Regions from separate parts of the Homo sapiens genome. Here region 2 is linked to region 1. Evidence: fine-mapped expression QTL. A gene starts in region 1. The other region holds a variant in brackets. All regions are shown on one strand. Distances are from middle to middle.

The links. PIP is the estimated chance that this variant, and not a neighbour inherited with it, causes the effect.
Region 2: its variant is the best candidate, but not a certain one, in a credible set for the expression of LINC01300 in sigmoid colon (GTEx, PIP 0.66).

Annotation. Positions count from the first base shown.
Region 1 is chr8:141,338,015-141,343,374 of GRCh38, reverse strand. LINC01300 (long intergenic non-protein coding RNA 1300) reads right to left here and starts at 2,826. Exons shown (of 4, transcript NR_024441.1): 1 at 2,703-2,826; 2 at 899-1,034; 3 at 160-417. RefSeq lists an enhancer at 702-1,202 and a silencer at 4,351-4,645.
Region 2 is chr8:141,366,919-141,372,278 of GRCh38, reverse strand. It overlaps GPR20 (G protein-coupled receptor 20), which reads left to right and starts at 4,993. Exons shown (of 2, transcript NM_005293.3): 1 at 4,993-5,078. RefSeq lists a silencer at 3,134-3,316 and an enhancer at 3,681-4,230. The variant A/G (reference allele first, on the strand shown) is at 2,687.

The DNA of each region.
Region 1 (5,360 bases):
TCCTTGTCGTGGGGCACAGGATTGGGTGGCAGGAAAGAACAGGGGGGGCTGGGGCTGGGGCACAAGGGGGGCAGGGAAGAGACACAGAGTGGAAGGTGGGGAGGGACAGGCACAGCTGGAGACGACAGTGTGTGGGGGCTCCGGGCAAACACATCTCACCTCCAGCCCGTTCTGAGCAATCCATCAGTGTGGCTGCCCCTGGAACGTGCGGGGGCACCAAGGCGGAGTTGCAGAGGCTGTTACTGATATGTGTCGTGGGGTGAGTCGGGGTGGGGGACGCATATCCCCACTCAGAACTCTGCATCGTAGATCCCATGCGTCTTGACACCTTCGTCTGCTAACATCTAGAAACCTTAGCATTTGAGAACCTTCAGATCCAAGGGTTCTGAGAGCTTAGAATTGTAGGATTTGTGAATTCTAGAAACAAAGGCAAGAAGATCACCCGTAGGGTGTCTCCTCTGCTCATGCAGCCTGGAGGGACCTCTCGGTGATCCCCGGCCGACCCCTCCCCAGCACTCAGCCCAAGAACCAGCCTCAACCACCTCCCTTCCCAGCTCAGCCTCACCTGCTGCCCAACCTGCAATACCTCCTCCCATCTCCCATCCTCAGACAGCCCATCCCTCCTGCAAGGTCCAGTCCGAAGTCGTCACCTCCCCCAGGAGGCCCACCCGTCCTCCTCAGCCCAGCCTGACTCTCAGGATCAGGCTCACCCTGCGGAGGCTGAAGCCACCAAGTCATAGTCCCAGTCCCAAGGGGAAGACAGGCCTGGAGCAGGGAGAGGTGTGGGCAAGAACACAGCCTCCGTCCCACAAAGAGGAGTTCAAACCCCCGCTCCAGCCCAAATGGCCCGGGCAGTGCCCTCACTCGTCTGCTTCAGCAGCCTCACCCGACTACTCACGATGGCTGCAGGTGGAAACTGCCCACGCATCTCTCAGCAGCTGAAAGGATGACTCCACAGTGGACGATTACTCAGGTGTAAAAAGGAGCAAAGCACTGGCACATGCGATAATGCGGAGGGACCTGAAGCCACCGTGCTAAGTGAAAGAAGCCAGACACGAAAGGCCACATGGTGCTCACACCTCCAGAGATGTCCAGAACAGGCAAAGCCAGAGACAGAGCACAGACGTGCTAGCCAGGGCTGGCTTCCTTGGAGGCTCCCAAGGAGAATCTGTTTCCCTGCCTTTCCAGCCCCTGGGGGCCCCCCTGGACTCCATGGCTATGGCGGCGGGTGCCAAGGCCCTGCAGCAGGGCACGACCACCAGGACCCATTGGGAATTGGCATCTGACTCCCTTCCACCACCCCGGGTGCCCCCACTTAGGAAGAGCCGACTCTCAGCAACTGTGCCCAGAGTGGCCTGGCCCATCAACCATGTGCCCCCTCAGCCTTCCTGCAGCCATTCAGAGACAGCAGTAAACACTCCTCCATCCCAGTGTGTGGGCCCAAAGCTGAGATCCCAGCCCAGGTCTCCCAGCTCACAGCCCTGCCCAGGGCCATCCTCCTGCTAGACGTCACCACATCAATGAGCATCTACCCCGTGCAAGGAAGAGGCCGGCGATGGGGTCCAGGTGAGGGGACAGCCAAGCCCACCAGGCGGTGGCCTTCCCTCACCTGCCCATTCTGGGCTAGGTCAGCTCTACCTGGAGCCTGAGCCCAGGCCCCTCCAGTGCCCTCTGCTGACTGCAGCAGACTGACCACCCTGGAGACCCTCCTGCCCCTGCCCCGAGACCCTCCATGCCACCCTGCCTCCAACCTCTGTCTTCTGCCCCCATTGCCCCTTCATGGTCCTGCAGGCCGCCCATGCTCTGTAAATCCAGCCCACCTGGGCACCCCGTGAGACCTCGGACCCGTCACATCCTGGTCCCTCCTCTTCCCCCACCCCCACATCCGACTGGCACTCCCTTTGGGCAGCTCCATCCGGTGGTGTCCTCTCTGAGTCCCAGGGCCTGCATCGGGTGGTGTCCTCTCTGAGTCCCAGGGCCTGGCACTCAGCAGGCCCTGGGGACATCAACCAGGGGCCCTTGAAGCTGTGTCCCTGGACACAGTTTCCCTGCCCCAAGCCCTGGCACATTCGGCCCAGGCTTGGCAAAAACTCCTTGTCCTCCAAGGACTCGGCTGCACCAGCCACTCAAATAAATTGATGTTCCCATCTCTGCTGACTCATGGATGAGAACATCGGGGCTCCTGCCAATGGCCACACACACCCCCAGCCCCACCAGGGAATAGCCCTGCACCCTGCAGGGACAATGTCATGAGCCTGAGAAGCCACCAGCTTCCCCTACTCCGTGAGCACCAAACTCCAGCCTGCTTGAGCTGTTGGGGGCCCCCTGCCTTGGCACTGTTCCTAATAGAGCCTGGGATCTTGTTTGAGCCCTACAAGGAAGCAAGGACCCCAGGCATCATCTTACAAACAAGGAAACTGAGGCTTGGGGAGGGGAGGAGCTTGTGGGTCCAAGTTCCCTGCCGGCTGTAACACTGTAGGAGTCAGAACCTGGCCAATGCCTGGAGGGGGCTTCCTTGGCCAGGGCTGAGCCTCAGGCTGCCCCCACCCCATCTCTCCCCCACTCCCATTGCATATGGAAACCAGAAAATCAATCCTAAGACCCCCAGCCAAACGAACGGACCCTCGTCTTGGCTAAGGACATTCCAAAGTGAACCTGAAAAGCGAGTTCAGGCCACGGTGGGAAGCGGGAGACGGACATACCTTGTTATCCCCCCTCCCTTTTGGAATGACTGGCAGAACAGTCTTTCAGTCTGATAATAAACATCTCCCATCCATTCTCTCTGCAGTCTGCTGCCTGGAGGCTTCATCTGCATGATGAAACCTCGGTCTGCACAACCCATTATCTTAACCCAGACATTCCTATCTACCGACAATAACTCTTTCAACCAACGGCCAATCAGAAAATCTTCGAATCCACCTATGACCTGGAAGCATCCCCGCTTCCGGTGGTTCCGCCTTTCTAGGCGTAACCAATGTACAGCTTATGTGTATTGATTGATGCCTTGTGTCCCCCTAAAATGTATGAAACCTAGCTGTGGCCCGACCACCTTGAACACATGGTCTGAGGGTCTCCTGGGGCTGTCATGGGCCCCCGGCCATTCATCTTTGGCTCAGAATAAATGTCTCAAACACTTTACGGAGTTTGACTTTTTGTTGATATATACGTCCAGGGAGGCCTCACTGCAGACTTACTGGGCCGCAGGGGCCTCAAGGACCAATATGGCCCCTCCTCTTGGAACAGACGGCCCCAAGCCAAGAGGACTTGGGGACCCTGTGGCCCAAACGGGTCATTTCACAGAATGGGAGACGGAGGCCCACACGGGGAATGGAGGAGAGCGAGGTGGAGCAAGGCCCTTCCCAGCCCTGGGCGGCCCCTTGACCCTTTTGTTCCCCCTCGCTGCCAGGCCTGTGACTGGGTGGGCCTGGGTCTGCAGCCCTACGGGGACTGGAGGGACAGCTGAGTGAGCAGAAGGTGCCTTGTGGCCAAGGCACAGAGGCGTCAGGGCCCAGCTGTGTTCAGCAGGAAGAAGGTCTGTGAGTGGAATATGGGGGTGCAGCGGGGTGGGGGGCGGCCAGCCTGCAGCTCAGATGCTGCGCTGGGGCTCCGGCCGTGACCACGCTCAGCCTCTGTGTCCTCCCCGGTAAAGTGGGAGGAATCGCCTTCCACACAGGACTCGGGGCTGGGTGAGGGCTGGGCGGCCACCACCACCTGCCCTGGGGCAGCAGGAGCTGCAAAGCCAGGCTCAAGGCCTGGGGGAAGGAACCCGGCGCTGGGTGCCCAGAGTCCAGATGAGATGGGTTTGGGGGGAAGGAACCCGGTGCTGGGCGCCCAGGGCCCACATGAGTTGGGTGTCGGAGGAAGGCAACCCCACCCAGGCCACCCCAGCCAGGGCTCAGGGACTTTGCCCACATGTTACCCTCTGGATCTTTCGGAACATTCTGCTGAATAAAAACTGGATTTAAAAAAGAGGCCAGGCACGGTGGCTCATGCTTGTAATCCTAGCACTTTGGGAGGCCAAGGTGGGCAGATCACTTGAGGTCAGGAGTTCAAGACCAGCCTGACCAACATGGTGAAAACATGTCTTTACTAAAAATACAAAAATTAGCCAGGTGTGGTGGCACATGCGTGTAATTCCAGCTACTTGGGAGGCTGAGGCAGGAGAATCACTTGAAATCTGGAGGCAGAGGTTGCAGTGAGCTGAGATTGCGCCACTGCACTCCAGCTTGGGCAACAGAGTGAGACTCCATCTCAAAAAATAATGAAAAATAAAAAAGGTATATTCTATGAAACTCTATTTGGGGTGTGATCTCGTTTTTAACAAGTATTTAAGAAGTAGGCTGGTGCAAGGTGTTTCTAAATGCTTCACAGTGTTATCTCTAGCAAACATTTCATCTGACGGTCTTTTGAATGAGGAGCTCCTGAACGTTCGGCAGAGGAGGTGGAACAGAAGAGAGAGGGCAGGCAGGGGCGTCTCCCTTCTTATCAAGGTATGACTAAGGGCACAACCTTATTTCCAAACAGAACAGTGGACAAACCGGGAAAGGGAGAGTCTGGAGAGATGAAGCGATACTATTAGTGCGGCTGACATGTCAATCACGGGGCTGGCACCGTTCACAGCTCTGAGGCTGCTGGATCTTTCCTGCCTCTCACCTCTGCTCTGCTCAGGCAAGCCTAGCCAGGCAGGGACTGGAGTTGGGGGCTGTTTTCCAGTTCACAGAGGAAGTCACAAGGCCCTAGGACACTCAGGGCCTTGGGAAAGCCAGCCAAGGACCAGAACAGATGTTTCGGCCTGACAGCACCTACTCTTGGGTTAAGCATCACCCTCGGTTTGAAAAATAGAAGTGAGGCCAGGAGTGGCTCACACCTGTAACCCCAGCACTTTGGGAAGCCAAGGCGGGCAGATCACTTGAGGTCAGGAGTTCAAGACCAGCCTGGCCAACATAGTGAAACCCTGTCTCTACTAAAAATACAAAAATTAGCCGGGCGTGGTGGCCGGCACCTGTAATCCCAGCTATTTGGGAGGCTGAGGCTGGAGAATTGCTTGAACCCAGGAGGCAGAGGTTGCAGTGGGCTGAGATTGCACCACTGCACTCCAGCCTGGGCGACAGAGCAAGACCCTGTCTCGATAAATAAATAAATAAAATTTTAAAAATAATAAAAAAAAAACAGGCTAGGCACGGTGGCTCATGCCTGTAATTCTAGCACTTTGGGAGGCCACGGTGGGCGGATCACTCAAGGTCAGGAGTTCAAAACCAGCCTGGCCAACATGGTGAAACCCTGTCTCTACTAAAAATACAAAAAATTAGCTGGGCGTGGAGGCGCACACCTGTAGTCCCAGCTACTCAGGAGGCTGAGGC
Region 2 (5,360 bases), 29 kb before region 1:
GGCCTCTGAGCTCCCAGGTTCCTGCCTGACTCTTCAGGGGCCCAGCTGTGTGAGCCCGAGGGAGGGAAGGGACTTAGTCCCCTTGCTCTCTGTGAGGACCCTCACCAGGAGGTGGGCGGGATGAGAAGTGCTGGTCCAGGCACAGGCCAGGTGGAACGGGACACACGGGAAGCCCCCCACGGTGGCAATCCTCTTCCTGCTGTCTCTGCCCTGGGGGAACCCACCACTCACCCAGCACCTCCTGGGCTGGCCCTGGGTGGGCCTGGAGACCCAGATGGTGGGAACTGCACCCCTGCCCAGCTGCCAGCTGTAACCTGGCTGGCCACAAGAAGGCCAGGGCGTGAAGGGGCACCCCTGCCCAGGTGGCAGGAAGGCTGGCATGGAGCTGAGCTGCCTCGGAGCTTCGATAGCTGAAGCCCCTCTCCGGCCTTCATCTCCACATGTATAAAAGGTGGGGCCAACTTGGCGGGTTCCAAGGTCCTCTGGTCCCAGTGTTCCCCCTGAGGCCCTGCTGCCCCATTCTGTAAGCTAAGACTCAGCTAGCCCCACACGCATTCCACACTCCACACTCAGACCTCACCCCAGGCTCCTGGACCCATGGCAAGGCCAGGCAGAGCCAGTGTGAATCCTGGGAGAGCCTGCAAGGCTGGTCACCAGACCTCCTCCACCAGCAATCCCTCCCGGATTGGGTCTTAGGAGCCTGGGGCTTTCCCTCTGCTTTCTCACCAATAAGCCCCGCGCTGCTGTCCCCCGCCATTCCCTGCGGGGACCCTCCCTGGGCTCCATGGGGCTCAAGGCTGCAGCTTCTTCCGTGTGGGCCCCTTCAGCAGTACCAGCCCACACTGAGTCTCACCACCTTGTGCCAGCTGTGGCCAGGGCCACAGCCCTGCCAGACCCCATGATGAGGCAGTGTTCTGTGGGTGCCCCTTCCCACAGTCCATGAGACTGGGTTTAACAGAAGGGTACTGGGGGGCTGCAAGCCAGGCATGGTTCCAGCCAGGGTCTGCATGCCCCATTTGCTGTGTGACTTTGGACAGGCCTTCCTCCCTTTCTGGGCCTCAGTTTCCCTGTGTGTAAGAGCAGATGTTGAGACAAGATGCCCTGGGGGGAACCCTCAGTGTTGAGCAGGCATAAGGGGGTGCCTTGGGGCACCGAGGGGGCCAGCCCAGAGGGTAGCAGTCCCAGCAGCCACCCTAGGATGACTCCCTAGAGCCCCAGAGCCGCGCGCTAACTGTGCACCAGGCACAGCACCAGGTACCCTGGACGTCCCCAGTTGTGGCTGAGTTCCAGGCATTCAGCCAAGACTGGCCTGGATGATCCCGGACTCTGGGTACTTCCCCACCCACCTCTCAAAGGCTCTGCCCTGCAGGGTCTCATAGCCTGCCCTGGTTCTTCTAGCCTCCACCCCTGGAGCCCCGACATGCTCTGCTACCGTGGGGTCCGCGTCTTCCCCTCAGATAGGAGGAGGCCGCAGACTGGGCCCAGGCTGCCCCTCACTGCTGTGGGCCTTGGGGCTGGTCCTGTCCCTGTACCCCCAGCCCAGTTTCCTTGGTTCCCACTGTGGGGCTGAGCCTCCCTGTGGAGCTGTGATGTGGCCGGCAGGACCCAGCGCTTCCTGAGAGGAGGGACGCCCCTTCCCAGCCGTGAGCACAGGCCACAGGGCCAAGGCTGAGGATCAGAGCAGACAAGGGAGGCGCCAGGCTGGGCTTGAACCCAGGGCTGCACAAGGGGCCCCCACATTCCCTGGACATGCAGGCTCACCTCTCCCTGGGGCAGAGAAAGGCTCCTGCCCACCCCAGCTCAATGGCAGGTGCCTGCCCGCTACCCAGCAAGTCCAGAGTGCAGGAGAGGGCCTGTGGGCACTGGACCCCCCAGGAAGGAGCCTGCAGGTCTCCCGATCACCCCTCATCTGGAAGCTCTGCACTCCCCCTCTGCCCCTCCTCCATAGCTCTGGCCTCTCGAGTAGGTGGGAGTCCTGCAGAGCTGGCTGGCATCACCCCACCTTCGCAGGCCCCCTTGGGAGGACCTCACCCCTGGACACATGGCAGAAAACGGCTGCCAGCCTCCCGGGGCTGTTTACATCCTCGAGTGGCACCAAGACGAGGGTCTCTCAGGAGGACAGACGAGGTCTGCGGTGTCAGGCACCAGCAGGGGTGGCAGAACCCGCCTGTCACCACCATCTGCTGTTCCCCATTATCCTGAGCCCTCTCCACCCCGGGGACTGCTCAGTGGCCCGTTGTTGGCTTCATCCCTCAGGATGGGGACCCTACAGTGCCAGCACTGCCCATGATGGGCGGGGCTTGTCAGTCTTGATTGCAGCGTTATGGGATTCCCAACTGCAGCTGCCACAGCGAGAGGGCCTTGGCGTCACAGGCCAAGGGTGGAGGACAGGAGCCATGGGTCCACCTGGCTCCCATGGAGGTTCACAAGGGGCCACTTCTGCCTCCTGCCCAGGGTGGCCTGGTAGCCCTGCTGGCGGCTCATGTGGAGATATCATTGTGGCGCTTCCCTGCACCCTGTCCCTTGGGGAAGGAGGAATGGTAGGCTGCTGATGCCTCACCGCTGGCAGGGCCTCCAAGGATGCTTCCATGGGCTTGAGAGGGCTCTCCACCAGGCCCAGTTCCCTACAGTGTCTGCCCAAGGGGCCCCTCCCACCCTGCAAAGTGTGCCAGAGCCCAGGATGAGC[A/G]GTCCTGCCCTGCGAAGGGCCAGTCAGACACACCTGAAGGGGTCCTGACCCTGGGCACAGCCACTCTCTGACCTCTGACCCCTGACCCCAGTCACAGACAGCCTGGCCTGACCTGCCAGCCTGATAAAGATGACAAGGAGGAAATTGTCCCTGTGCCCTGTCTCCTCTGAGGGTTGTGGAGTGTTGGCCCTGAGCTCGGGACCCCCATCCCTGGTGTCCCCCCAAGAGGATCCCTGGGTCCTGCTGAGAAGAGTCTCCCTGGGGGAGGAGTCAGGGAGGCTGGCGTGGGCTGTGACCCCTCCCCAGGCAGTTCCCCGCTGTTTGCTGGGGGACCGTCTCTGAGATTTCTCTGAGAACAAGCCTGAGAGTGCAAGGCTGGAGCCCCAGGCCCTCAGAGGTGGGCATGAGGCCTGGCACTGGTGCGGTGACTCAGCCACCCTCGCCTGCTCAGGAAATCTGAGCCTCCTCTGGCTCCAGCCCTGCCCAATCTGGGCTGCCTCCAGGCCACCCCCACACAAAAATGACATTGCATCCACCCCCACCTTCCACAAGCCCGGTGAAACCCTGCCTGCCAGGAGCCAGTCCTGGTCCAGAGAGGTGCAAGAGGCTGGTGGCCAGAGACTCCTGTGCCTCTCTGGGCCTCAGTTTCCCCAGCTAAAACAGACACAACGATGTTCTAAAGGAGATAATTGCAGCCTGTGGGCTCAGCCCTGCAGCCGCAGGGAGGCTGCTCCAGAGTGAAGAAACCATCCTCTCCCAGAACTTTCAATGGCTCCCTGTTGCAGCACTCTGGTACCCATAGAGGCTGCTGAGACTCAGTGTAGAAGTCCCCTGCCCACTCCCAGCTTTGCTCCCCAGGAAATATTCTGATGGCCTCCTGTCCCTCTGCCCATCTGGGCTGCCTGCCTCCTGTTATACCTCCCTCTGCCCCTTCCAGGAAGCCTTCCCAGACGGCATCCCTCCCCAGCAGGCTGGGTCAGGACCCTAGGGCCCACCTACTCTCTCCTGTTGGTCTGCATTACAACCAGCCTGAGCTCGGGAAGGCCCAGCCCCTCCCTTGGGGAGCCTTCCCTGAGTCTCCGGTGTGCAGTACAACCCACTCAGCAGGGCCTCGGCACTCAGGCGGCTGGAAGGTTAAAGTGTGAGTATCAGCAGAAGCACACGGGATGGGAACAAGAGGAGATGGTGCTCTCGGCAGAGGAGACACTAACTAAATGGCCCCAACCGCTCCCCGACAACCCCCGCTGCCACCCCAGGCTGGCCACAAGGCCTCCTGGCTCTGAAGCTGTCTGGGGAGAGTGGCCCTCCAGCAGCCCTCTGGGATCAAGCCTGTTGATGAGCTCACGCTTCCTCCAGCACTGAGGTCCGGGTCCCACACGCTCTCCCCACCTGCTGGCCTGGGTCACGTCCAGGTCTTTCCCACACACCTGACCCCACATGCCACATGCCACCGGTGCATGGGTGCAAACAGAGGCCCAGATGCCAGGTGTGCAGGCTGTCGGTCATGGGTACACACAGACACAGCCAAACCCAGGACACATGCAAAACAGAGAGCCATGCAGGAACCCAGGCTTGCGTGGGCTGAAGCTACCATGCACATGCCCCCTCCCGGGAAGGAAATTGGGCTTTCGTGTGCTCCCACCTCCTGTCCCGCACACAGCACGCACAAGTGCCAGCCACCATCTCCTGGATGGTGCAGCTGAGACTCAGCCCCTCCGTGCCTCAGTTTCCCCCTCCTGCCCCCCACACAGCACACACAAGTGCCAGCCACCGTCTCCTGGATGGTGCAGCTGAGACTCAGCCCCTCTGTGCCTCAGTTTTCCCCTCCTGCCCCGCACACAGCACGCACAAGTGCCAGCCACCATCTCCTGGATGGTGCAGCTGAGACTCAGCCCCTCCGTGCCTCAGTTTCCCCCTCCTGCCCCGCACACAGCACACACAAGTGCCAGCCACTGTCTCCTGGATGGTGCAGCTGAGGCTTAGCCCCTCCGTGCCTCAGTTTCCCACCTCCTGCCCTGCACACGGCACACACAAGTGCCAGCCACCACCTCCTGGATGGTGCAGCTGAGGCTCAGCTCCTCGGTGCCTCAGTTTCCCCCTCTGTCTCCAGTGGGTGTGGGGACTCTGGTGCCCCAGGCCCCTCTGTGCCTCGGTTTCTTCTTCTGTCTCCAGTGGGTGTGGGGACTCTGGTGCCCCAGGCACCGTCCCTCAGGCTCTGAGCCTTGACTCCTCCTGGGGGCGGGGAAGGAGCCTGCCCCGCCCCCACCCTGCCTTTGCCCAAAAGGAGCCCCAAGCGCTGGCCTGACGTCAGGCCGTAGGAAGGCGAGGTCCGGGCTGCATGCAGAGCTGAGAGCTGAGGACTCCCATCTCCAGCCTGCCCGGGTGAAGCGCGGTAAGTTCCCCTGTGGGCTGGCCCCAGCCTCCCTCTCCCCAGCTTCCCTAGATAGGAGGCTCCTGAGCTGCTCCCTGCAGGGGTTCTCACCCCCAGCCAAGCAGGAGTGGGAAGGGCAGGGCAGAGAAACTGCCTCCAGATCCGGGCTGGGGAGAGCTCAGAGCAGGTCCTGCTGGACAGGGAGCCATTTCTCAGATGAGAAAACAGAGACCTGAGGGAGAACATGGGCGTGAGTTGGGCTGGCTGCATAAGGGGGAGCTGCGCTGCTAGGTGCCCACCCAA